6 separate regions of the Homo sapiens genome follow, and regions 1, 2, 3, 4 and 6 are each linked to region 5. The links come from fine-mapping of genetic effects on gene expression. A gene starts in region 5. Each other region holds a variant in brackets. All regions are shown on one strand. Distances are from middle to middle.

Region 1 (4,089 bases), 54 kb after region 5:
AAAAAATAATAATATTAAAGGAGAAAACGTTCCTTTCAGAGATGGAGCATTTTGGTAATAATAGGGTTCCGTCAGGATGGCTCTGAAGGTGGTGATGATGTCCACGGGGTGGCCAAAATGGTATAAAGGTGAGGATCACTGAAGCCGAAGGCCAGAAACTGGTCATGGGCTGGGTCGTCTTTATAGATGCCAAAGTTACCTAAGATGACGGCGAGGCTAGGAGAGGGTGAGCCACCAGGTATCACAGTCTTCAATGAACGTGGAAGAGTGGCCAGATTAGTAGATAATAGCAGGCCAAGGAGTATGGTTCAGTGACATCAGCCCCAGCTAAGTGCTTCTGTCGTGAGAGTGAAGGAGGAAGGGTTTGGGAACAGCAACAGAGAGCGAGAAGAATGCCACCATCACAATGCTCCCTACCCTGTCACATCTGTGAGGTGGAGAAATGAACAGCCTCCGCTTGGGAGCTTCACAGGGGAAGGACCAGTAAAGACAAGGAAACAGAATACTTTAAAAAGGCTAAGGGCATGGGATTATGTTTATCATGTCCAGAAGGCACAGGTTGGGAGGGAATGTAAGTATGAAATTGAATCTGTCCCAAATGTCTGCTTCCTTCCAGGCAAAATAAACGACAAATATATGGACAGGGTATCATGATTGTATTGCACGTTAATATCTGTTCTAAGCCCACAGAACAAGAAGAACCCCACAGCAGCCATTCTTTGCCATCATCTTGGCCAGGAACCCAGCATCCAGAATGTAGACTTGAGACCCTGGCTCCTTCCACTAGGACATTTATTTCCTAATGTTTCAATCACCTCATCCCAGCTTCTGTTTCCTGTCAGGCTCAGAGCCCCTACCTCCCACACAGTGGAGGAGTAGATGTCCATTTCTCAGGAGCAGTGGACTGCTTCCGGCAGATAGTGAAGGCCCAGGGGGTCCTGGGGCTCTGGAATGGATTGACAGCCAATTTACTGAAGGTGAGAAGAGCCACCAGCCTCCGCTGCTCCCCTGCCTCTTCCAATTCTACCCTCTTCCTTTGTCACCCCCAACCCCTACTACAGTTTGCTTGGAAAACCCCCTCTAGCACTAATGGGTAGCACAAGGCCCATGAATGCACACTGTCTGTCAGCCCCGTAGAGAGGGGAACCTGTGCAGTGGTGGAGTATCTTATACCCCATTCCAGAGGAGCTGAGCATTTAGTGCAGAGATACTTAATGTGGAGGTTCATGGGCCCCTAATGGGAACCTAACCCCTCATCCTAAAATTCTATGCAAAAATGTATGTGTATATGCATATGTGCATCATATTCCCAAAGAACTCCATGACAAAAAAAAAAAAAAACAAAAACAAAAAACATTAAGCACTCTGGACTAACCTTGCACTAGCTGGCATGTAAATGATTCCAGTCAAGGCCAGCATATAGTGACAGGTAGTATCAGATAGTCTGCGTGCATATGACCCAGATCTAGTGCCTCCCAGGCAGGTCATGCCCTTCAATCACTGTCATTCCTCTCCCAACCCACACTGAGCCAGCTTTCCTTTTGCCATCTTTCCTGATTCCAAAAAGAGTTACCATTTGTATTGCCACCGCCATTATCTCACTTTACAAGATAATTTACCCTGATCCAAGTTGACTGCAGACACATTGATGTTTTCTTTTTAAGAACTTAACTTGATTTTCATTTTTGGTTTTAACAGATAGTTCCATATTTTGGAATTATGTTTAGCACCTTTGAGTTCTGCAAGAGAATCTGTCTTTATCAAAATGGTTACATTCTGTCTCCACTGAGCTATAAATTGACCCCAGGAGTCGATCAGAGTTTGCAGCCCCAGGAATTACGAGAATTAAAGAAGTTCTTCAAAACGAGAAAACCGAAGCCTAAAAAACCAACTCTATAAAATGGAATGGAACTAGAAGTGCACTGACTGACAGCATGTTGCAATCACAGATAAATGTAGCCTCATAACTGTGCACCTGAGGAGGGATGAGAAGCTACTGCTATCTGCTGCTCTGGGAAATGAGATGGTTTGGCCATGCACCACCTCAGATCTCCAAACTGATGTCCCTGTGAACACCTGCACTATGAGAAGGTTTCCCAACAAGAGTGTATCATGATGGCATTCCACGAGATTTTATAACCAGAGTCTAGCAGTGATAAAATGTACAATTTACGCTCTGAATAGAAACATG[A/G]CACCAAAGAAAGGGCATTGCCATGACATCTCAAAGCAACAGGTAATTGAAGTGGCTGAGTGGATACCACGTTGTGAGGTCAGCCACTGGGTCACTTGTAGTCAATGCAAAGCTTGCACAAACCAACGTCAGCCTAGTTTCACTCAGTTTGACCTGAGACTTTCCAATACAATCTGTTGTTTTGTTTTGTTTTTAGAGACAGGGTCTTGCTCTGTCACCCAGACTGGAGTACAATGACACAATCATAGCTCACTGCAGCCTTTAACTACTGGGCTCAAGACATCCTCCTGCTTCAGCCTCCAGAGAGTTGGGACCATAGGTGCACACCACCACACCTAGCTAATTTTTTGGGGAGGTCTTGCTATGTTGCCCAGGCTGGTCTTGAACTCCTGGGCTCATGCAATCCTCCTGCCTTGGCCTCCCAAAGCGCTAGGATTAGAGGTGTGAGCCGCTGCACCCTGCCCCAGTACAATCTTTTTTGAACTCAAATTTTTGCTGACATCTGAGTGCACACACCACAGTGTAAATTATGCCTTATCAGAATCTAAATGAAAATAGCGAACATTTAAAAGCTATCACCATTGTAGTAGAATCATCCTTCTTTTTTGAAATTTGAAGCATCCCAGGCTTAAAATCTTGTGTTTCAGAAAGACAGTTTATACCATGACTGCTTAATTATCCCCCCAAAGACCTTCTGATTGAAGTCATGTACAGTTCAGTGGCCTAAATTCTCTGCCTTTTTAACTTGCTTTGCAAGCCTACTCTGAAAATAAGTTATTTAGTCAAGTTATTCTCAAAGATGTCCCAGTTGCCTAGAAAGGATCAAATGGAACATTTGACACACATACTCAAAAAAATGTAACTGACTATAAACACTTTAACCTAATCATCTGTATCAAACTTTCTAAAAATCAAATCTCAGGATTGTTCCACTTTAGAGATTCTATGTAAAGTTTATATAACTATACTTGTCAAATAGCACCTATCTATGCATTTAAAAATGCATTAATATCTAACATAAAATTGTTAATTTATACACACACATACACTCATACATAGAGAGAGATTTTCGGTATGTTGCAAGTATTTTTTCCGATTAAATTTATTTTCCAAAGAAAAAATGATGTGTTGGTCATTTATTGCTAGTCTGAGTTATAAAACTATGGTTAAATACATATTGGCCAAATCTGTAAACTCTCAAAGCCTTATCCTATTTAAGTATACCAAAATAATTCACTTTTCCAACTGCTGCGGCATTCTGTTTTATGGAGAATGGCAGTTAACACACACACACATGGAAATCTCATCTGTAGCTCAATCTGTTAGAGTTTGGAGGGTGGCAGATTCTTTACCCAAAGTGAATAGTTCATGTTTATTACTCTTTATTTTCCTTGAAACAGACAACTTTTCAAACAGTTCTGAAAGCTGCAAAAATATTTTTTACTTTTTTAACTATAAAATCCTAACCTCACATTATTTCATGATAATATCTTGTGTATTCTTCCACAAGTAATTTTTTTTTTAATTTGAAAAAAAAAATTGTCACCCAGGCTGGAGTCCAATGGCGTGATCTCAGCTCACTGGAACCTCCTCCCGGGTTCGAGCAGTTCTCCAGCTTCAGCCTCCCGAGTAGCTGGGATTACAGGCGCCTGCCACCATGCCTGGCTAATTTTTGTATTTGTAGTAGAGACAGGGTTTCACCATGTTGGCCAGGCTGGTCTCGAACTCCTGACCTTAGGTGATCTGCCCACCTCTGCCTCCCAAAGTGCTGGGATTACAGGTGTGAGCCACCACACCCTGCCCTTCCACAAGTATTATTAAATAGATAGCTAAACTCTTGCAGTTGTCATGCACAGAAATGTTTTCTGAGCTGCAGTTTTGATTTTTTCTTCATTAAA
Region 2 (4,072 bases), 77 kb after region 5:
AGCCCCCTTTATGGTTATTACAATAGATGTGGACTCACTGAGCTGGCAGCTATTAAAATAAACCTAGGACCAGGCATTAATGATCAGAAAGCAAGAAGTGGTGCCTCCTGCAATTGGGTAGCTGACATAGATGAGGTGGGGGTTTTTTTTGTTGTTGTTCTTTCTATTCTTGTTCAATGATTTTTGAAATTTAATTTAAAGACAAAGTGGTTTTAATCTCTCCAAGCTGTGCAGGATAGTGCTATAGAATTCATTATGTCCATTACGCTCATGCGAACGTTGATGGTACACAATCTTAGCAACACCCTAATTTATGCCGTTGTTTTGTTACTATTCAATACATAACAGGATCCGTGAAGCCTGATTCCAGGTGAGAGAGCCAGAACACAGGTCAGCTTGTGCACAGCCGTGCTTCCTATTCCAAGGGCCCTCTGCACTCAGTGACTGGAAGCAGCGCGCTACGGGCGCTCCGGACCGCCGGAGAAAGAAACGAGGGGTGTCTTCCCAGAGCGGCAGTTTTCGTGAATGGTAAGTCATTTAAACCGTCATTTTTTTGTATCAAAAGAGATGCAGAGATGCTAGAGAGTCTATTAATTTGAAGGCATTTTAAAAACATAAACTGCAAAGAGAGTTTTGGTATACAAGGGCCATTTCTGGCACTGCCCCCAGACTCCAATTCAGTCTCCTCTATCATTACAGATACTTTGGGAGAAAAAATTTTTAAAGTACTGCTGTACTGTATCATAGATTTTCAAGCATCCGTGTTACTGGGGTAAATTCTATTTCTCCTTTGAAGTTTGTGAACGTAGTATTTCTAATTTGCTTTTGAGGTTTTTAATAGTTAACATCTGTACATGGTAATAAAAGCCAAATAGTAAAGAAAATATGTAAAACGAAAAGTAAACATCTTCCTGTCCTGCGTTTCTCATCACTAGCCCCCTCCTCAAAAGTCACCGTTATTAGCAATTTCTTGGCTATCCATTCCCCCAAAATTAATGCATATTGCTGTAACGGCTGCTGATTTGTTTTATCGGAATCGTATTCTGACCACCTGGATTCAAAATGGCATGATTCTTTTAGAACCGAGTCATACTGTGGAGTACCAGGACTAACAGAAGCTGTCGGAGGCAGGAGGGCAGGGAAAGGGTAGCTTCCGGACTCTGAGCAAGGATTTCTAAGTGTGGCCATTTATTAAAATCCTAACCTGGGATTTTTTTTTTTTTTTTTTTTTTTTTTTTTTTTTGCGGGGGTTGGGGGGTTAGTTTTGGTTGCTGAGTGACCTGGAGACAAGTCACTTCTAACATCAGGGTCTTAGTTTCTTATCCTTGAATGGAGAAATTTGGGGAAGAGACAAACTCTAAAGTCCCTTCTAGTTTAGACGTCCTCCAGCTCCATCATTTTTGCAGAAAGCAGAACCAGTGAAAGGACCAGGATTAGGTGATTTAATCCTTTCAGAGAACATTTTAAAATATCTAACACAATCGTAAATGAATAGTCTCTGACTCAGAGCAGTCATTTACAGACTGTGTGGGTGGTTTG[C/G]CATTGGCAAGTAAAATTACGAATGTAAAGATTTACATTAATTTCAGGACCAAGAAGCTGAGCAACAAATTACAGCTCGGTGTTTGGGTCAGAGGTGCTCTGATTTACCTCAAAATAATTAACATCTGTCTTCTCAAAGCCTCATCTTATTATGTGTAATGTGCACTTCCGTATGCAGGTTGAGATTTATTTGAACAACAAATATTAGGCGCTGCAATTTCGGACACAAAAATGCCTTGTGTTCCACTCCAAATGTTTGGAGGAGCTTTCCTATCATTTCAGCCATTATTTGCTTTATGTGCAGGTGAACAAGGTCAGATGCATGGTGCTCTTCTTAGCCAAAGGCTTAAGAGAGCCTTTGGTATCCCGGCAACAAATATAAACAGTATTCAAGCGACAGATTGGGCAGTTGCTTTCACTAGACCCTCATCAGAGACAAAACTGAGTTAAATTAAAGGAGTCTATTAATCCTTGGCTTTTCCGTGACTATCAGGGAAGGGGACAGAGAAACGAGGGGGTTATTTTTATGGCGAGCATCCATCCTGGGATTTCATTTCCTTGGGCAACTTTCGTAACATGGGGAGGCAATTTAGCACTGTTGAGATTTTAGAGAACATGCCGAATCTGATCACATGACATGTTACACTGTCTCTAATGTTTTCAGTCCCAGAATAGAGATGGTTATGGTTGCAAGGACATAACCAGAATAAAGTATCAGTTAAATAGCTGTTGACTGGTAACTTCCGAGGGCCTCGTGTTTGGGAATGAAAAGGAAAACTCTTCTGTCTAAATGAACTCCAATACCCAGTTTGGCAAGAAGCAGAGATATCTTATGGGCAGAGGCAAAGGCAGATGTACTGTGGAGCTAGGGGTGCTTCCCCTTTGGAGCCACCCCTTGCATGGGCCCCTCCCAAGCCCTAACCATATATTCATTTGGTCATATGGTTTGGCAACATTTTCAAAAGACATATTTTGTGTTTTTAAAAAGAGGGAGCCAAATCATATAAGCTGACACTTCCACAAAACTCAGATCCATTCCTGCCCGTGGAACTGGAGTGGATGAAGGAATTTGGAGGCAGCCCTGTACATCAGGGAGAGGTCTGGGGCTTCCTCACCACCTGACCTTCCTCGGAGCACACCGCTCAGGACTCACTCATGAGAAGCTTTGAGGCTAGAGGTCTCATTTTCAAATACCAAACTTTCTTACTTGACAACAATTCAACTTTTACTTAACTGTTTTGTGCCTTAGTTTCCCCATGTGGAATATGGGGATAACTTTAGTACCTACCTCATAGGAATAGTGTGAAGATTAAAGGAGTTAATATATGTAAAGTGCTTAGAACAATGCTGGGCACCTGCTTTACACAATTTTGCTCTTATTATGACTGTTATTGCTTTGTTTTTGTTTTTGAGATAGAGTCTTGCTCTGTCACCCAGGCTGGAGTTCAGTGGTGCGAACTTGGCTCACTGCAACCTCCACCCCCCAGGTTCAAGCGATTCTCCTGCCTTAGTCTCCCGAGTAGCTGGGACAAGAGGTGCAAGCCACCACACCTGGCTAATTTTTGTATTTTTAGTAGAGATGGGGTTTCACCATGTTGGCCAGGTTGGTCTCGAACTCCTGGCCTCAAGTGATCCAACCGCCTCAGCCTCCCAAAGTGCTGGGATTACAGGCAGGAGCCACTGCATCTGGCCCGACTGTTATTGTTTTATTGAAATGCTTTAAATTATTTTCACTTCATTCATGGGAGAATGGTTTAATGGATTTATCCTTTTCCTGCAGATTTTCTAAAACAGTCTCAAGAAAATGCTATATATACTATAGAAAGTGGATCACACACACACACACAGAGAGAGAGAGAGAAGGTTGTAAAGAAAGAAAAGGACATTTTTGGAATGGACTGAATGAATAGAAACATGTGCTTATGGTGATAATCCTGAGCTCTAACTCAGAGCACTTATTTTACAACACTGATTATGAAAGAGACCAAAGGTCAAAGATAAATCCGTCCTGCCTCACAACCAGACTGCACTGCTCACCTGACCCAGGGGCCACTGTGTGGTCACCAGGATTCTTCTCACAGCTTCCTTTGCTCTCGTAGTATTTCAAGGAACCCATGAGGTCCCAGCCTGATTACCCAACCCTATGACTTCACTCCCTAGGGAAAGAAGCTGCAGGGAGGAGAAAATTTACTGAGACCTTTAGAAGCAAAGGATCTCCTTTCACTTTCACAACTAAGTCCAGGGTTCAGGAGTCCATTTATTACAAAAATTGAGCTTCATAATGGCTTTATCCCAGAAGTGAAGATCAGGGGGTAAGGACGCTTGGGCTTCTGGGTAAAAGCGTGCTGTTTGCCAATTAGGGTAGAAAGCTAGGAGTTTGACCACTGAAATTGTAATCCCACTTCGGCTCCATGTTTCTTTGTCTTGGGTCATATCACATCCCGTCACTAGTTAGTGGCTCAGTTTGTCTACCAGGAAACCTGGAAATCAACTTTCCTTTTTAAGCTACAATATAATTCCTCAAATCTACTGT
Region 3 (4,089 bases), 110 kb before region 5:
CTGGAAATGGCAAGAAAACAAATTCTCCCTTAGGGCTTCTAGAAGGAACACAGTCCTGCTGTGATATGGTTTGGCTCTGTGTCTCTACTCAAATCTCATGTTGAATTGTAATCCCCAGTGTTGGGGGAGGGACCTGGTGGGAGGTGATTGGATCATGGGGGTGGATTCCCCCCCTGCTGTTCTCATGGTAGTGAGTTCTCACGAGATCTGGTTGTTTAAAACTGTGTAGCACCTCCCCCTTCACTCTCTCTCCTGTCACCATGTGAAGGTGTGCTTGCTTCCCCTTCATATTTTGCCATGATTATAAGTTTCCTGAGGCCTACCCAGCCATGGCTCCTGTATAGCCTGCAGAACTGTGAGTCAATTAAATCTCTTTTCTTTATAAAGTCTCAGGTAGTTTTTTTATAGCAATGTGAGAATGGACTAATACATACTGACAGCTTGATTGTAAAACTTTTGGCCTCTAGAACTGTCAGATAGTAAGTCTGCATTATTTTAAGCCACTAAATTTGTGTTAGTTTATTAGAGTGGCAATAGGAAATTAATACAGACATGATGGAAACTTAGAATGCCAGGTTTGAAAAGGCTTTCTGGCAAAGCCTCCTGTCTGGCCTGTTGATTCCTGGAAGATGGGAGTGAAACAGATCCGAATTCATAGCATATTTTCTTTATTGTTCTTGTGGCTCTTGGCATATGTTTCTCTGTATTAATATTAGTTATCTTCCCATTAGATGTACGCTACTTGTGGGCAGATTCAGTTAGCATATAGCACAGGACCTTGCCCATCTAACAGGCAAGCAGCAATGATGCTTTGCAATTGCATAATTTTAGCTGGAGTTTCTAAAAGGCTTTCACATATGACCCTACAGGCATCAACATAAACTGAAAATAGAAGGGCAGGAATTATAGAAGGTGTCACAGATTGGAGAGAGGAAGTTCCCAGAAGAGACTGTAAAAGAGACACTTGGAGTGAGAAAGAGAGGAAAGGGGACAAATGCCAAGGAAAGGAAATGAGTTTTCCTTACCCAGGAAAAATTGGCGAAGGCTCACAACCTTTGACTCTTATCTTGAAAGCAAGCCAGGAGGCCTATGCAGGAGTGAGAGAAGCCACAAATCACTACATGGCCCGTGGAAGTAGAGCAGGTTGGATCCCAGCTGAGGGTCCCATCCAGCATCCTGACCCCCACTCCTATCCTAGCCAGTCTGACTGGCAGGAATGCAAAAGGGATGTTTCCTGCCTGCCTCAAGAGTTTGGTAACTCTTCCATTAGGTAGCTGGTTAGATCTGGAGGAGAAAGCTACATAACCCACTTGGGGTTTCAGAGGGAGCCAAAGTCAACTTCTTCAGCACAATGCCAGGCAAGCTAGACAGATGGCAGCAGAGGAGCTATCAGCTCCTGAATTTCAAAGACCAGCCAAGGGGAGAGACAGAGCTTGGCCACCATGGAAATAGAGAAGCCCAAGAAGATAGGGGACCCATAATTTTCAGGCCTAGTAATTCTCAATGTCCATGTATAGTCCACTCATGTGACTTAATGTCTTATGGGCAGTATTTTTCAGTCAATTATGCCTTGTAAAACAACTCTGGGAAGAGGAACTATTCTGTGAAATTGCTGGGTCATATAGTAGTTGCATGTTTAGTTTTTTAAGAAACCATAGTCAGGTGCAGTGGCTCATGCCTGTAATCCCAGCACTTCGGGAGACCGAGGCAGGTGGATCACTTGAGGACAGGAGTTCGAAACCAGCCTGGGCAATATGGCAAAACCCCATCTCTACAAAAAATACAAAACATTAGCCAGCATGGTGGCCCATGCCTGTGGTCCCAGCTACTTGGGAGGCTGAGGTGGGAGAATCGATTGAGCCCAGGAGTTTGAGGCCGCAGTGAGCCATGATCACACCACTTCACTCCAGCCTGGGTGACAGAGGGAGACCCCAAAAGAAAGAAAGAAGGAAAGAAAGAAAGAAAGAAAGAAAGAAAGAAAGAAAGAAAGAAAGAAAGAAAGAGGAAAGAAAGAAACTGCCATACTCCCTTCCAGTATGATTGTATCATTTTACATTCCAAACAACAATGTACATAAGTGATTCCATCTCTCCA[C/A]ACCCTTACTAGCATTTGATGTTGTCTCTAATATTATTTATTCTGACAAATACATAGTGATACTTCAATGTGGTTTTAATTTGCATTTCCCTTACAATGAACATCATTAACTATGCTTATTTGCTATCTATATCTCCTCATTCATGGAATGACTCTTCATGACTTTTGTTCATTTTCTGATTGAATTGATTGGTTTTATTTTTTAACTGTTAAGTTTTTGGGAGTTCTTTAAATATTCTGTATACAGGTCCTTTGTTGGATATGTGGTTTGCAAATATTTTCTCCAAGCTTATAGCTTGCCTTTTCATCCTCTTTCGCAAAGCAGAAGTTTTTCATTTTGATTAAGTCCAATTTATAAATTTTTCCTTTTATGGCTAATGCCTTTGGTGTCAGGTATGAGAACTATTCACATAGCCCTAGATCCCAAAGATTTTCTCCTGTGTTTTTTTTTCTAAAACCTTTATAGTTTTGTGTTTTACACTTAAGTTCATAATCCATTTTGAGTTGATTTTTGTGTAAGATGTGATATATAGGTCAAGGTGTTTGTTTGTTTGTTTGTTTGTTTTTTGCCTGTGGATATCCAATTGTTTTAGCATCATTTGTTGAAAAAGCTATATTTCCTCCATTGACATTCTTTTGTGCATTTGTCAAAAATCAGTTTGCCATATTTGTTTTTAAGAGTCTGTCCTGGATTCTCTCTTCTGTCCCTCCAATCTGTGTTTATCCCTCCACCAATACCACACTATCTTGACTACCGTAGCATCATATTAAGTCATAACACAAGTGATTCCATATACTTTAATCTTATTAACTTATTTTCACTACGTTTTAACTATTCTAGGGCCTGTTGCTTTACATATAAATTTTAAAATAAACATGTCTTTGTCTACAAAAGTTCTTGCTATGATTCTAATAATTATTGCATTAAACTTGTATATCAATTTGGGGAGAATTGATGTCTTTACTGTGTTCAGTTTTCCATCCATGGTATGTCTCTCCATTTATATAGATCTTTGATTTCCTTCATCAGAATTTTGTAGTCTTCAGCATACAAGTGCTTTACATGTTTTGTTAGATTTGCACTGAAGTATTAAATTTTTTAGCTATTGTAAAAGTATTCTATTTTTCATTTCAGTGTCCACACATTCATTGTTGATCTAGTATCTGACAGCCTTGCTGAATGCATTTATTAGTTCTAGGTTTTTAAATGATTCCTGAGATTTACTGTGTAGACAGTTATGTCATTTGCAAATAGAGGCAGTTTTATTTATGCCTTTCTATTTTGTATGCCTTTTATTTCCTTTTCTCATCTTATTGCACTGACTAAAACTTCCAGCACTTTGTTGAATAAGAGTGGCAGCTGGGCGTGGTGGCTCATGCCTGTAATCCCAACACTTTGGGAGGCCAAGGCATGAGGATCACTTGAGGCCAGAAGTTGGAGACCATCCTGGGCAACATAGTGAGACCTTGTCTTAAAAATAAAATAAAATAAAAGAGTGGCAAGAGAGGGCATTCTTGTCGTCAGCTATAGGTTTTTGTACTTGCCTTTTATCAAGTTGAGGAATTTCCCTCTATTCCTAGAAAACTGAGTATTTTTTTATTCTGAATGGGTGTTGTATTTTCTCAAGTCACTTTTCTGCATCAATTTATGTGATCATGTAAGTTTTCTTCAGTGGCCTTTTAGTATCACAGATTACATTGATTGATTTTTGAATATTGAACTAGCTTTGCATCTCTGAAATAAGCACTATTTTGTCATTATGCATAATACCTTTTATACATTCTGAATTCTATTTGCTAATATCTTTTTTTAAAAAATTTATTTTTAATTTTGTGGTTATATAATAGGTTTATATATTTATGGGGTACATGAGATATTGTGATACAGGCATGCCATGTGTAATAATCACACCAGGGTAAAAGGAGCATCCATCCCCTCAAGCATTTATCCTTTCTTTGTCTTACAAACAACCCAATTATTCTCTTTTAGTTATT
Region 4 (4,089 bases), 48 kb after region 5:
GAAGAGACAAGGGTTCCAATCCAGGTCTGTGTGATGCTGAAGCCCACAGGCAGAAGATTCGCACTCTACCTAGGCTTCCACAGATCACTCAACCATGCATGAAAGTAAGGCCTGAAAAGTGTCTCTACTAGGTTGCCCTTCATTAATCTAGTTCCAGTCATGTATAATAAAATGGAGTGTCTTTCCAAAATTTCATAATTTAGATTTCACTCATTTAGGCCGACTTCCCCCCTATACATACCCACTAGTTGGAATTAGTTGCCTTTTACTATATGCTGTATTGAATGTCCTTATAGTTGGGGGTCATGAGAAAAGCTAAAGTCTAACTTGGACAAGATGACGACTGGCATTGCCAGGGTTGTGCAGCAACAGTAGTGGGGTGGGGTGTCCTGCAAGGACATGAGTTAGGTGGCTGTTAGGGGCAGCATAAGTTGTAGTGTAAAGCCTTGGAGCCTAGATGCCAAGGTCGCAGAGTCACCAGGAGGCAGGATCCTGGAGTACAGATTGCAGTGGCCCAGTAGGCACAGCATCTGGCCTCTAGGTCTGCCTCTGCTATGCACCAGCTGGGGGCTTTGGTTAAGTTGCTCTGCTTCTCCAGGTCATAGGTTTTTGTTTGTGAAACGAATAATTGGAAGGGAAGATCTTAGGGTCCATTTCAGATTGGGGTCTCTGGTTTAGGGATCTGCGTTATCAGAGTCTAAAGTAATCAAGTCCTTGGAGATCTAGTAATCAGAAGGAGAGCAAGAAAGAGCCAGCTTTCATTGTCAGGGGCAACAAAGAGGTGGCTCATGCCCATAATCCCAGCACTTTGGGAGGCCGAGGCAGGAGGATCACCTGAGGTCAAGAGTTTGAGGCCAGCCTGGCCAACATGGTGAAACCCCACCTCTACTAAAAGTACAAAAATTAGCTGGGTGTGGTGGCATGCACCTGCAATCCCAGCTACTCGGGAGGCTGAGGCAGGAGAATTGCTTGAATCTGGGAGGCAGAGGTTGCAGTGAGCCGAGATCAACCACTGCTCTCTAGCCTGAGTGACAGAGTGGGACTCCATCTCAAAAAAAAAAAAAAAAAAAAAAAAAAAGAAAGTCCAGAAAGCCTGGTTTGAATCAGTAAAATCGAGTTTTCACACTGCTTCACTGATTGTAATTCATTCTTCTACAGATTTTTAAGGAGGGTGGAAGAGAGAAAAGCTAAGTAAAATGTGGTCCTAGCCATCACAGGTCTCATAGTATCCTGAGGGAAAGAGACAGGAAACAACTAACTGGAATATAAAACAGAATAAAATGTGTTCATTACCTGCTGTATGACCTTGGTCAAATCACTTAACCTGTCCCTGAGCCTCAGTTTCCTCAACTTTAACAGACACATAAGCAGTCAATAAATGTCAGCAGCTATGCATCAGTAGTGGCAATAGTAATATGGACTACATGTGTAATATTTTGTACTATGCCATTACATCTTAGTAAAATAGAACCATCTACAATGTCTTGTGAAGAGAGAAATGAAATGAATTTTGATATTTGTTTTCTGCAAAGATTCTACATTACATTGTATAAGTCTTGACCTACCGTTTTTATAACTCATGCATAAAATTATGTGAAAATGCTTTAAAAATTCCAGCCCACTCTTATACTGGGCATTTTATGTACTCATTCAGCAAGCCATTCATTGAGCACCAGTCATGTGTCAGCTGCTGCTTAAGGCACTAGAGATACAGAAATTAAAAAGACCCAGTCCTCAGAGTTCACAGAACACTAGGAAAAACAGACATGTAAATTGGACATGATTACAGTACAATTGTGAAAGAGGCCTCTTTGAAAGAGTTGTCTATATTCACCATCTCCAATCTTTCTCTTCCCATTCTCTTTTTTTTTGAGACAGAGTCTCACTCTGTTGCCCAGGCTGGAGTGCAGTGGCGTGATCTCAGCTCACTGCAACCTCCACCTCCCGGGTTCAAGTGATTCTCATGACTCAGCTTCCTGAGTAGCTGGGATTACAGGCACCCAC[C/G]ACCATGCCCAGCTCATTTTTGTATTTTTAGCAGAGACAGGGTTTTGCCATGTTGGCCAGGCTGGTCTCTAACTCCTGACCTCAGGTGATCCACTTGCCTTGGCCTCCCAAAGTGCTAGAATTACAGGCGTGAGCCACCATGCCCAGCCCGATTCTCTCTTGAGTCCATTCCAGTCAGACTTTTGCTCCACCATCCAATAAACTTCTCTTTTATTTTTTGAGACATGGACTCACTCTATCGCCCAGGCTGGAGTACAGTGGCACAATCATGGTTCACTGCAGCCTCAACCTCATGGGCTCAAGCAACCCTCCCACCTCAGCCCCCCCAAGTAACTGGGACTACAGGTGTGCACCACCACACCCAGCTAATTTTTATATTTTTTGCAGAGATAGGGGTCCCACTGTGTTGCCCAGGCTGGTCTTGAACTCCTGGGCTCAAGCAATCCTCCCCCTATGGCCTCCCAAAGTGCTGGGATTGCACATGTGAGCCACTGCACCCAGCCAAAACTTCTCTTTTTATGATAACCAGTGACCTCCATGTGTTTAGATCCAATGGTCACTTCTCAGTCTTCATCTTACTGGGCCCTCAGCAGCTCACCACTCCTCCTTGACATACCACCTTCACTTGGCTTCCTGGACACCACACTTTCCTTTTCCTTCTTCACCAACTGCTCCTTCTCAGTCTTCTTTGTGGGGTCTAATGTGGAAGTATCCCCAGGCTCAAGCCCTAAGTGATCTCATCTGGTCTCCTGGCTTTAAATACCACCCATGTACTGATCACTCCCTAATTATGTCTCCGGCCCTGACCTCTCCCCTGAACTCCAGACTCATGTAGCCAACTCTCCATCTCCATTTGAATGGCTAACAAGCATTGCGCAGTTGAACTCCTGATGTTTTCACCCACCCTCAAAAAACAAAAACAAAAAGCCAACCTGCTTCTCCCATAGCGTCCTCCATCTCAGTTCATGGCACTTCTGTCTATCCCGTCACTTAGGCCAGAAACTTTAGAGCCATCCTTGACTCTCCTCTCACACCCTCATCCAGTCCATCAGCCAATCCTGTTGACTCTACCTTCAGAATATATCGAGTCTGATCACTGCTCACCACTCCACCACTAGCATCCCAGTCCAAGCTACCGTCATCTCTTGCCTAAATTACTCTAGTAATCTCCTAACCAGTCTCCATCCTACTTTTCCCTCCATTCTTGAGTCTTTTTCAACACAGCAGCCAGTGATCATGTGAAAATATAAATTAGGTCATGCCATTCTTCTATTCATAACCCCCCCCAGTGACCAGTCTTCTCAGTAAAAGCCAAAATTCTTACTGTGTGCCCTACCAGCCTTATACAACCTAGCCACCATTTACTTTTGTGAAGTCATATCCCATTACTCTCTATTTTGTTCATTCCATTACCACCACATTGGCCTCCTCATTGCCTCTGTAACACCCCGGACATGCTCCTGTCCCAGGGCCTTTGAAGATATCTGTACAACTTGCTTCCTCACTTCCTTCAGATCTCCAAAAAGCCATCTTCTTGGTGAGGTCTTCTCTGATTACCCTAATAAAAACTTCAGCATCCTCCAGACACTCCTTATGTTCCCCCTGCTTTTATTTTATCCAGAGCACTCACCTCCTCTTAGTATTTGGTGTAATTTACTTATTTATTTTCTTTCTTTGTCTTGTCTTCCCCTGCAATTAGACTTTCAGCTTTATAGGAACAGGGACTTTTGTCTGTTTGGTTCACTAATGTATCCTGAGTGTCGGGCATATAGTAAGTATCAATAAATATGCAAATAAATGAATAGTCTTTAGAGGAGATAATGGGAGTATAAAAAAGAGCTAAGGAGTGCAGTCAGTATGATTGGGGTGAGTGATGCTTTTCATGTTGGAAAAGTTGTCATGAAGGGCCTTACATGTCATTCTAAGGAGCTTAGATTTTATCCTATAGGCGGTAAAATGTCAGTAAAGTAGTCAGTGGTCTGAATTGGAATTTTAGAAATGCGTTCTGGCTGTAGTATAAAGAATGAGGCCGGGCACGGTGGCTCATACCTGTAATCTCAGCACTTTGGGAGGCCGAGGCAGGTG
Region 5 (4,089 bases):
TAATTTTTTGTATTTTCAGTAGAGACGGGGTTTCACCGTGTTAGCCAGGATGGTCTCGATCTCCTGACCTCGTGATCCGCCCGCCTCAGCCTCCCAAAGTGCTGGGATTATAGGCGTGAGCCACCGCGCCCGGCCATACATTTTACTTTCAAGGTTAAAATAGGCCAGGCGCGGTGGCTCATGCCTGTAATTTCGGCACTTTGGGAGGCCGAGGCAGGTGGATCATCTGAGGTCAGGAATTCGAGACCAGCCTGGCCAACATGGCGAACCCCATCTCTACTGAAAATACAAAAAAATTAGTTGGGTATGGTGGCACATGCCTGTAGTCCCAGCTACTTAGGAGGCTGAGGCAGGAGAATCGCTTGAACCTAGGAGGCAGAGGTTACAGTGAGCCAAGACCATGCCACTGCACTTCACCCTGGGCGACAGAGCGAGACTCTGTCTCAAAAAAAAAAAAAACATAACTTGGCTGACCCAATCTCCATACAATGGGGTTATCACATGAAATGTTCCAGACCCACGAACTTCCTGAAAGAGCTTTAGAATCTTGTCCCGTTATCCAACAAAGGGCTTTAGGAAGTACCAGTACCCGAAGGTTTCCTTATTGTAATCCCCAAATTCCAATTCAAGCCCTTTTAAAGTCGGGGTCCTCCGGTCTTCAGAGTCATACATCTTTCTCAAGCTTCCCCCAGCCATCAAATTAGCTTACAACAAGACAGAAGAATTCACAAAACATGAAAATAAGCATTCCCCAATTGTTGAGAGCAGAGTATGGCTTCTGCAACTAGAACAAGTTCTCACAGTCAAAACCTTGTAATGTCATACTCAAGTGAGATTGACAGTGAAAAATAAAAAAGGAGAAACCCTGCAATGCCTTTTAGAAAACGTTCCTATAGCATTGTGTGTTAGTAAATGTAAATAACTATACAAGCCTAAAAACAACTATGTACCCGGAACATCTTGCTCACACCAACAGACTGCTGACAGTTCCTTTCCTTGTAATTATTAGTGACATGGCTTTTTTAGAAAAAAAAGAGACAGAAAGAAATTCTGAAATTCTGAAATTTTTGAACTGATTAAAGAATCCTCGGATTCTGGCCAAGCCTCTCTTAGCCATTCTTTGCCTCTATTGTTCTCTTAGCTTACAGAACCACTGAAAATGTCCCTACTGGAGTTAACTCTGCAGTCCTAGTAGACATATAGTGTAGCCGTTAGTGGAAACTGACATAAACCGCCCTAGATTTCAAACCGGTCTCTGCTTTGTAGGTAGCTGTGTGAGCCTGAGCAAGTCCTCTCTGTGTCTTGGTTTCCTCTCCTGTAAATGAATACCTAATCAGAACTAACACATATAAACTGCTTACCCATACCAGTCATTGTTCATTAATCCTTACAACAACCCCTAGGAGGAAAAAATTATAATCTCTGTTTTATAAAGCAACTGACACACAGAGAGGTTGAGTGACTTCCCCAAGGTCCCACAGCTGGTAAGCTGCAGAGCCAAGAATCTTACACAGGTTCAAGAGTCCAGATTCAAGTCCCCACACCCACACAGCCTCTGTCAATGAGGACATACGTACTTAGGGCCGTTTTGAGGATTACATGAGAACGTCTGTAAAGCCCAGTACTTGACAAGTGCCTGAGAGATAGCAACTGTGGTTGTTAGAATTTTTTACCTTCTGCACTGGGAAACCATCAAGGCTTTTTGGTTAGGCAGGAAAAAAAAATGGGTTGGAGGCAAGAGGAGGAGGAGGGAAGCGCCAGGGGAGGAAGACAGAGAAGTGGCACGTGAAAGGGAGAAAAGGGGCAAACCAGAGGAGAGGCAGGGAGGGGCGGCGGGGGCGCACTGAACATTTAGGAAGCAAGATGTCTAGCAGGCTGGGCCTTGAGAGAACAGTAACTGTTTCGCAACTGAAAGTCGCTACTCGAGCCTTGCCAACTGGGGAGACTATGCCCATGATATCCGCGGCCTCGGACCCCGGACCCTCCAGGCCCTCGCGCCCCACCCCCGACCAGCCTCGGGCCAGGCTAGGGCGTAGACGGGGCTTCCCGTCCCTCACGCGGGCCCGCCCCATGCCGGGCGGGGCCTGGGGCCCGCCACCTCCGCCCGTGGCCGGAGAGCCCCAGGCCCGAGCCACGCGGTCTTCCGGGCCCGGGTCGGGGCTCGATGGCTACGTGGAGGCGGGACGGCCGACTGACAGGCGGCCAAAGGCTGCTGTGCGCTGGGCTGGCGGGGACGCTCAGCCTCAGCCTCACCGCGCCCCTGGAGCTCGCCACCGTGCTGGCCCAGGTTGGCGTCGTGCGAGGCCACGCCCGGGGACCGTGGGCCACAGGGCACCGGGTGTGGCGGGCAGAGGGGCTCCGGGCCCTGTGGAAGGGGAACGCGGTGGCGTGCCTGCGCCTCTTCCCCTGCAGCGCCGTGCAGCTCGCCGCCTACCGCAAGTAAGAGCCGGGCGGGGCCGGGGAACCGGGAGACCGGACGGGGGTGGGGTGGGGGAGCCGCGGCCCGACGCCGCCCTGCTGCCTGGACTCGGGGCCCTGGAGTAGGGACGGCCCCCTTGTCGATCACCTGGGGACCCCTCGGGGCGGTGGGCCACCTCTATGGCCCCCAGAGTGCAGCCCCAATGCTTTTCACGTTCTCTTGGGGTTACCGCCCTGCAAGATGCAGTTTTGTGGTCCGCAGCCCTGGTCCGAGAGGCTTTCCGGATTGGACCGGGCGAGGAGGTGGAATGCAGCAAAGGATTTGGAGGAAAGGAATGAAAAGCTCTCCAGAGAGATGAGTCCTAACCATTTCCACCGTCCTCCAATTTGGAAACTTTTGCTTAGGCTGGCTTAGGAAGAGAGAGACCCTTTTAAAGGTGTTTTTGTCTGTGTGACCCAAGCCCCGAGAAGAAAGTGCTTGGTGTGGGGAAAGGACCCGATCCATCGATACGAAAAGGCCGCAGATTTTTGCCCACACATCTCCCCAACTTAAATGAAGCTTGACTTCAGGCTCCGACAGAGGCTGCAGCTTCCCCTCCCCAAGCTGAGAACGGCCCCCTCAGCCTACCGCTTCACCCCACTGGCCTCATTTATTTGGGCCTTTTCCACCTTCTCCCACATCAACAGCTGCTCCTTAGGAAAAGATCTAAAGGTGTAAATGCAGCCTTAAAGCTTCCACCGAGCTCAGAGGTACCTGCATTTGAACTGGAAACCAAGCCTGAAAGAATGAATTGGTAGTGATGGCATTTCAGGAAGCAGAGATGTTTCTGTATTGGGGGGACGGTCCCTGTGTTCCTCATTCAGTGGGCACAGTGGCATCTTTGATATCGCCTTGGCTCTGAATTAGACAAACAGCCCACATTTGGGAGAGTCGGTCTTGACCGCATAGTTTAGTCTTGGCGGCTAATAGTCAAAGGATTTTGCCTTGACACTGTCACTCACCTGGGAGGCCAGAGGTGGAAGGCTCACCTGGCAGCCGACAAGCCGAACGGAATCATCCTTATTACCTAGGCCTCTAGGCCAGTACTCATTTTGCCTCTGCCTGGAAATAGAGTTCCCTTCTCTTCCTCTGCAGAGGGACTCATGGGTGGGACCATGACATTTAGTTAAGGCCCTTTTTCCTCCCCACCTCTGCTTGCCCTCATCAACATCTGGCCTGCAGTCTGTAAACAGTTCTCCTCTGAGTCTTAATGACTCAGTTTCTCCCCCACTTCACCCTCTTCTCTACAAAGTAGTGTGGAAATCTTCCTTTGGATGGGATAAAATATGTCCAGAGGGGTGGGGGGCAGAACTTCAAAGGCTGGTTTAAGTATTGTGGCTCTTCTGCTAAGCACCTAGTATATGCACATTAGATTTTTTAAGCTCCTGCCTCCTGCCCTGTAAGGTCCATAGGACAGGAAGCATTGTGCCTGTTTTACAGATGCAGAATTGGGCTCAGAGTGATGACACCTCTTGTCAGTGACCGAGCTGAGCTCCACTACCTGGCCTTCTGACTCCAAATCTCATAGTCTTTCTGTTACATCATGCTGCCTCCCTGCATCCATTTGACACTAATTTAGTCAGGCTACATTAAGTCCCCACTGTGTGCACGATGCTGAGGACAATGCCAGG
Region 6 (4,089 bases), 84 kb after region 5:
TAGGCCAGACCTGCTCCCAGACCTGGGCCTAATGTTCCCAGCTTCTAAGACTATTTCAGCCACTAAAAGCCCATGAGAACCCTTGAGTGAATGTGGCCCTTTTTGACGTGCTCAGGAAGCAGGCAGAGTTTGTTCTCTCTCACTTGTGAGTGGGAGGCCTCCAGGAGTGCAGCAGCGGACTTGCTCAGTAGTAACATCCATTGTCATTTCTTGAGCTTTGACTATGGGCCAGGCACTCTTTTAATTGTGGATACTCATTTAATCCTTTCAGTGGCCTTATGATGCAGGTGCTAAGATTACCATTTCCCAGATGAGGAAACCGAGGCACCTGGCAAACCACGTGTAACACCTGCAGATGAAAACCCTGAAAACAAAGGGAACCCCCCCCCAACTTAGAGAGAGTCAGAAAGTAGCACTTAATGCTGCGGTGCCTGGAAAATAACCACGGAGGCCCAGAGGAAGGGAGGGGTTCAAGCTCTTTAGGGACCATCGGCCTGCTTGGGGACCTACCCATGTGAGGAGCCCCTGGAGAGGCGCTTGGTGCAGTGGTTAAGAGCATGGTTCCGCCCCTTTCCAGCTGTGAAATGGTGAGCAAGATTCTAAGTCTCACTGCCTCACCTTGCTCAGCCGGAAAATGGGGTCAAGAACACTACTTGCCTGGCACTGTAGTGAGGATGAAATAAATTAATATTTGCGAGGCGCTTGGCACAAAGCCTAGCATATAATATGCGCTTAAGTGTTTGTTAAATAACTACGGGCTCTCTCAGAGTCGGCCCCTTCCCTTTAGGCGCCGGTTTTGTAATCTGGGAAACTTTGTAAAGAGCGCTCTCAGCGCGGTGGCTAAAACAGTCCGCTAGGACTATGCCGAGTAGCAGCAGAAGGAAATGGCCCGGCCCGCCAGGCGGGGAGCTGCAGACAACTAGGAGAGAGGAGGGCAGGGCACGCCCTGAGGGAAAAAACGCGGCTTTTGCAGGCCTAATGGCGGTTGAAAGTCGCCGAAGTGCAAGGCTGGATTGAGACAGACAGGCTGAAAAAGTCGCAGCGCAGCCGCAGCGGCAGCAGCCGATGGCCGACTCCTTCCTTTTCCAGTCCACGTGCCCAGGCGGGTCTCCGGCCGCCTCTCGCACCTGCCTGCAGAGGGCGCGCTGCTTCTCGCCTCGGCCTGGGCACCGCGGCCGACTCCGCTGGAAGAGCTGTGTCCTCCACGCAGACCGCTTTCCACCAAGCTCAGCTAAACCCACCGCCCCCAAGAAGTCTACCCTGGCCGCTCCAGCCAAGCTCTTCCTCCCCTGAACCCCCAAAGCATCATCAGCACTGCATAATTTAGAACTTGGATATGTGCTGGCTGGTCACTGTGTCCTACGTATGGGACAAATCTTGGCTCAACAATATCATACTTTGCATTTCTCCCCCGAGTCACACACGGCCATTGGCATACCGGCAGCCACATAGCGTGTGCCCAGCAAACACCTGGTGTACCTCTACTGGGTCTCACTGTATTGGCTCCCAAAGGAGACTCTCAGGATCCCTGATGTCGCCAAGCCCTGGGGTGGCAGAAGGGACACCTGGGAGGATGCCTGCATGGCCTCAGTTGCCACTTCGAGCCTTCACTGACCAAATGAGGTCGGTGTAGCCCACCTC[A/G]GAAGGCAATGCCTTCGTGCAAAGGAAACCCTCTGCCAGGGAATCCATTGATATGGAAATATTTGCTGAGCCCCAGCTTTGGTGCAGAGCCCTGTGCTGGGCACCAGGGACACAGTGAGGAATAGAAAGGATTCTTGTGGTGATGGGAGGCAGTGTAGAAAAATTAGAATAGCAAGAGATTTAAAGTCAGGCTGGGCGCGGTGGCTCACGCCGGTAATCCCAACACTTTGGGAGGCCAAGGTGGGTGGATTATTTGAGGTCTGGAGTTCGAGACCAGCTTGACCAACAAGGTAAAATCCTGTCTCTACTAAAAAAAAAAAAAAAAAAAAAAAAATTAGCAGGGCGTGGTGGCGCATGCCTGTAGTCTCAGCTACTTGGGAGGCTGAGGCAGGAGAATTGCTTGAACCCCGGGAAGTGGAGGTTGCAGTAAGCCAAGATTGCACCACTGCACTCCAGCCTGGGCGACTGAGTGAGACTCCGTCTCAAAAAAGAAAAAAAACAGAGAGAGATTTAGAATCAGAAAATCCCCCACAGGCACTAGCTGTGTGGCCTTGGGCACACCATGTCACTTCTTTGAGTCTCAGTTTCCTCTTCTGTATCTCTGAGGGAGTCTGGAGTAGGGTAGCGGTGGTCAGATCTACAATGATAGCCAGATTTATAATGTTTTAATGTTCATGAGAACATACTTATCCATGAAGTAAGTAATTTAAATTACATTTTTAACAGTACACATTTTTTTTTTTTTTTTTTAGATAGAATCTCGCTCTGTTGCCCAGGCTGGAGTGCAGTGGTGCCATCTCGGCTCACTGCAACCTCCACCTTCTGGGTTCAAGCGATTCTCCAGCCTCAGCCTCATGAGTAGCTGGGATTACAGGCGCTCACCACCACACCCAGCTAATTTTGTATTTTTAGTAGAGATGGGGTTTCACCAGGTTGGCCAGGATGGCCTCGAACTCCTGACCTCAAGTGATCCACCTACCTCAGCCTCCCAAAGTGCTGGGATTACAGGCATGAGCCACTGCACCCAGCTTTATTCCTTCGATTTAGCTGTAACTTTGTAACCAACCTCTCCCTATCCTCCCCTCCCCTCTACCTTTCCCAGCCTCTAATAATCATAATTCTACTCTCTACTTCTATGAGCTCAGGAGTTTTTTTTAGCTCCCACATATAAGTGAGAACATGCAGAACATGCCTGACTTATTTCACTTAACATAATGTCCTCCAGGCTCATCCATCTTGTCATGAATGACAAGATCTCATTCTTTTTTATGGCTGAATAATATTCTGCTGTGTCTGTGTGACATTTTCTCTATCCATTCATCCATTGATGGACACTAAGATAGATTCCATATCTTAGCTATTGTAAATAGTGCTGCAATAAACATGGGGAGGCAGGTATCTCAATACACTGATTTCCTTTTTGGGGGTATATATCCAGTAGTGAGTGGAATTGCTGGATCATATGGTAGTCCTATTTGTAGTTTGTTTTTTTTTTTTTAAGAAACCTTCATACCATTTTCCATAATGGCTGTACTGATTTACATTCTCATCAACAATGTACAAGTCCCCTTTTCTCTGCATCCTCCCTAGCATTTTTTTTTTTTTGTCTTTTTGACAATAGCTATTCTAGCTGGGGTATACATTATATTTTTTTAAATTGAAGCATAAAATGGAAGTGATGGTGTTTTGTGAAAACCAAATGATAAAATAGTTATGAAAGCTGTTGTAACTGAAAGAGGCACCACAAAGTTTCATTATGTTTACCACTGCTAAAATATATAGGAGGCACCCAGTTAATGTTTCTTGAGGAGAATGGAAATGTTTCCTGAGTGATAGGATCCATATATAAACATGAGAGTTAAGAGTGCCAGAACATCTGACATGTGCCAAATGCGCTGTCCAGATGATAAGTATTTAATGGATTCTCTTAGAGAGCAATCACTGGGCGGGGTGGTCAGGGCTGCATGGTGGAGGTGAGATTTCAGTTGGGCCCTGATGATGGCGTTGATCTTTGGTGAAGAGGCATGAGGAAGACAATCCAGACAGAGGGAAGGGCATGCACTAAGGGCACAAAAGCAGGAAGGTATGAATGATCGAGAATGCCAAGTGCAGGAGGGCAGGGCCCTCTGCCTCTGCTCTAGCCTCAGTGCCTAGCACAGTCCCTGACACATAGTAGGCTCTCAATACATGTTTGTGGAAGGAAGGGAGGGAGGGAGGAAAGAAGGAAGGAAGAGAGGAAGGAAGGAAGGAAGGAAGGAAAGGAAAGGAAGGGCGGAAGGGTGGGCCAGGTGTGGTGGCTTACCACTATAATCCCAGCATTTTGGGAGGCCAAGATGCGAGGATCACTTGAGCATAGGAATTTGAGACCAGCCTGGCCGACACGGTGAAACCCTGTCTCTACTAAAAATGCAAAAATTAGCTGGGTATGGTGGTGGGTGCCTGTAATCT

What was found. PIP is the estimated chance that this variant, and not a neighbour inherited with it, causes the effect. A credible set is the group of variants that fine-mapping cannot tell apart.
Region 1: its variant is the best candidate, but not a certain one, in a credible set for the expression of SLC25A43 in tibial artery (GTEx, PIP 0.51).
Region 2: its variant is the best candidate, but not a certain one, in a credible set for the expression of SLC25A43 in blood mononuclear cells (TOPMed, PIP 0.56).
Region 3: its variant is the best candidate, but not a certain one, in a credible set for the expression of SLC25A43 in fibroblasts (GTEx, PIP 0.61).
Region 4: its variant is the best candidate, but not a certain one, in a credible set for the expression of SLC25A43 in whole blood (TOPMed, PIP 0.72).
Region 6: its variant is the best candidate, but not a certain one, in a credible set for the expression of SLC25A43 in esophagus muscle (GTEx, PIP 0.73).

The regions. Positions count from the first base shown.
Region 1 is chrX:119,451,167-119,455,255 of GRCh38, forward strand. SLC25A43 (solute carrier family 25 member 43) reads left to right here. Exons shown (of 5, transcript NM_145305.3): 4 at 843-977; 5 at 1,699-3,312. The coding sequence ends at 1,899. Among named protein-coding and RNA genes, the nearest start is that of SLC25A5, 15 kb to the right of the region's middle. The variant A/G (reference allele first, on the strand shown) is at 2,192.
Region 2 is chrX:119,474,367-119,478,438 of GRCh38, forward strand. No RefSeq gene overlaps it. Among named protein-coding and RNA genes, the nearest start is that of SLC25A5-AS1, 7.3 kb to the left of the region's middle. The variant C/G (reference allele first, on the strand shown) is at 1,540.
Region 3 is chrX:119,291,267-119,295,355 of GRCh38, forward strand. It overlaps LINC03098 (long intergenic non-protein coding RNA 3098), which reads left to right and starts at 263. Exons shown (of 4, transcript NR_110396.1): 1 at 263-355. The variant C/A (reference allele first, on the strand shown) is at 2,095.
Region 4 is chrX:119,445,101-119,449,189 of GRCh38, forward strand. All of the region lies in intron 3 of SLC25A43 (solute carrier family 25 member 43), which reads left to right. Among named protein-coding and RNA genes, the nearest start is that of SLC25A5, 21 kb to the right of the region's middle. The variant C/G (reference allele first, on the strand shown) is at 2,005.
Region 5 is chrX:119,397,240-119,401,328 of GRCh38, forward strand. It overlaps SLC25A43 (solute carrier family 25 member 43), which reads left to right and starts at 2,097. Exons shown (of 5, transcript NM_145305.3): 1 at 2,097-2,439. The coding sequence starts at 2,165. RefSeq lists a silencer at 1,961-2,620.
Region 6 is chrX:119,481,710-119,485,798 of GRCh38, forward strand. No RefSeq gene overlaps it. Among named protein-coding and RNA genes, the nearest start is that of SLC25A5-AS1, 15 kb to the left of the region's middle. RefSeq lists enhancers at 819-918, 969-1,018. The variant A/G (reference allele first, on the strand shown) is at 1,642.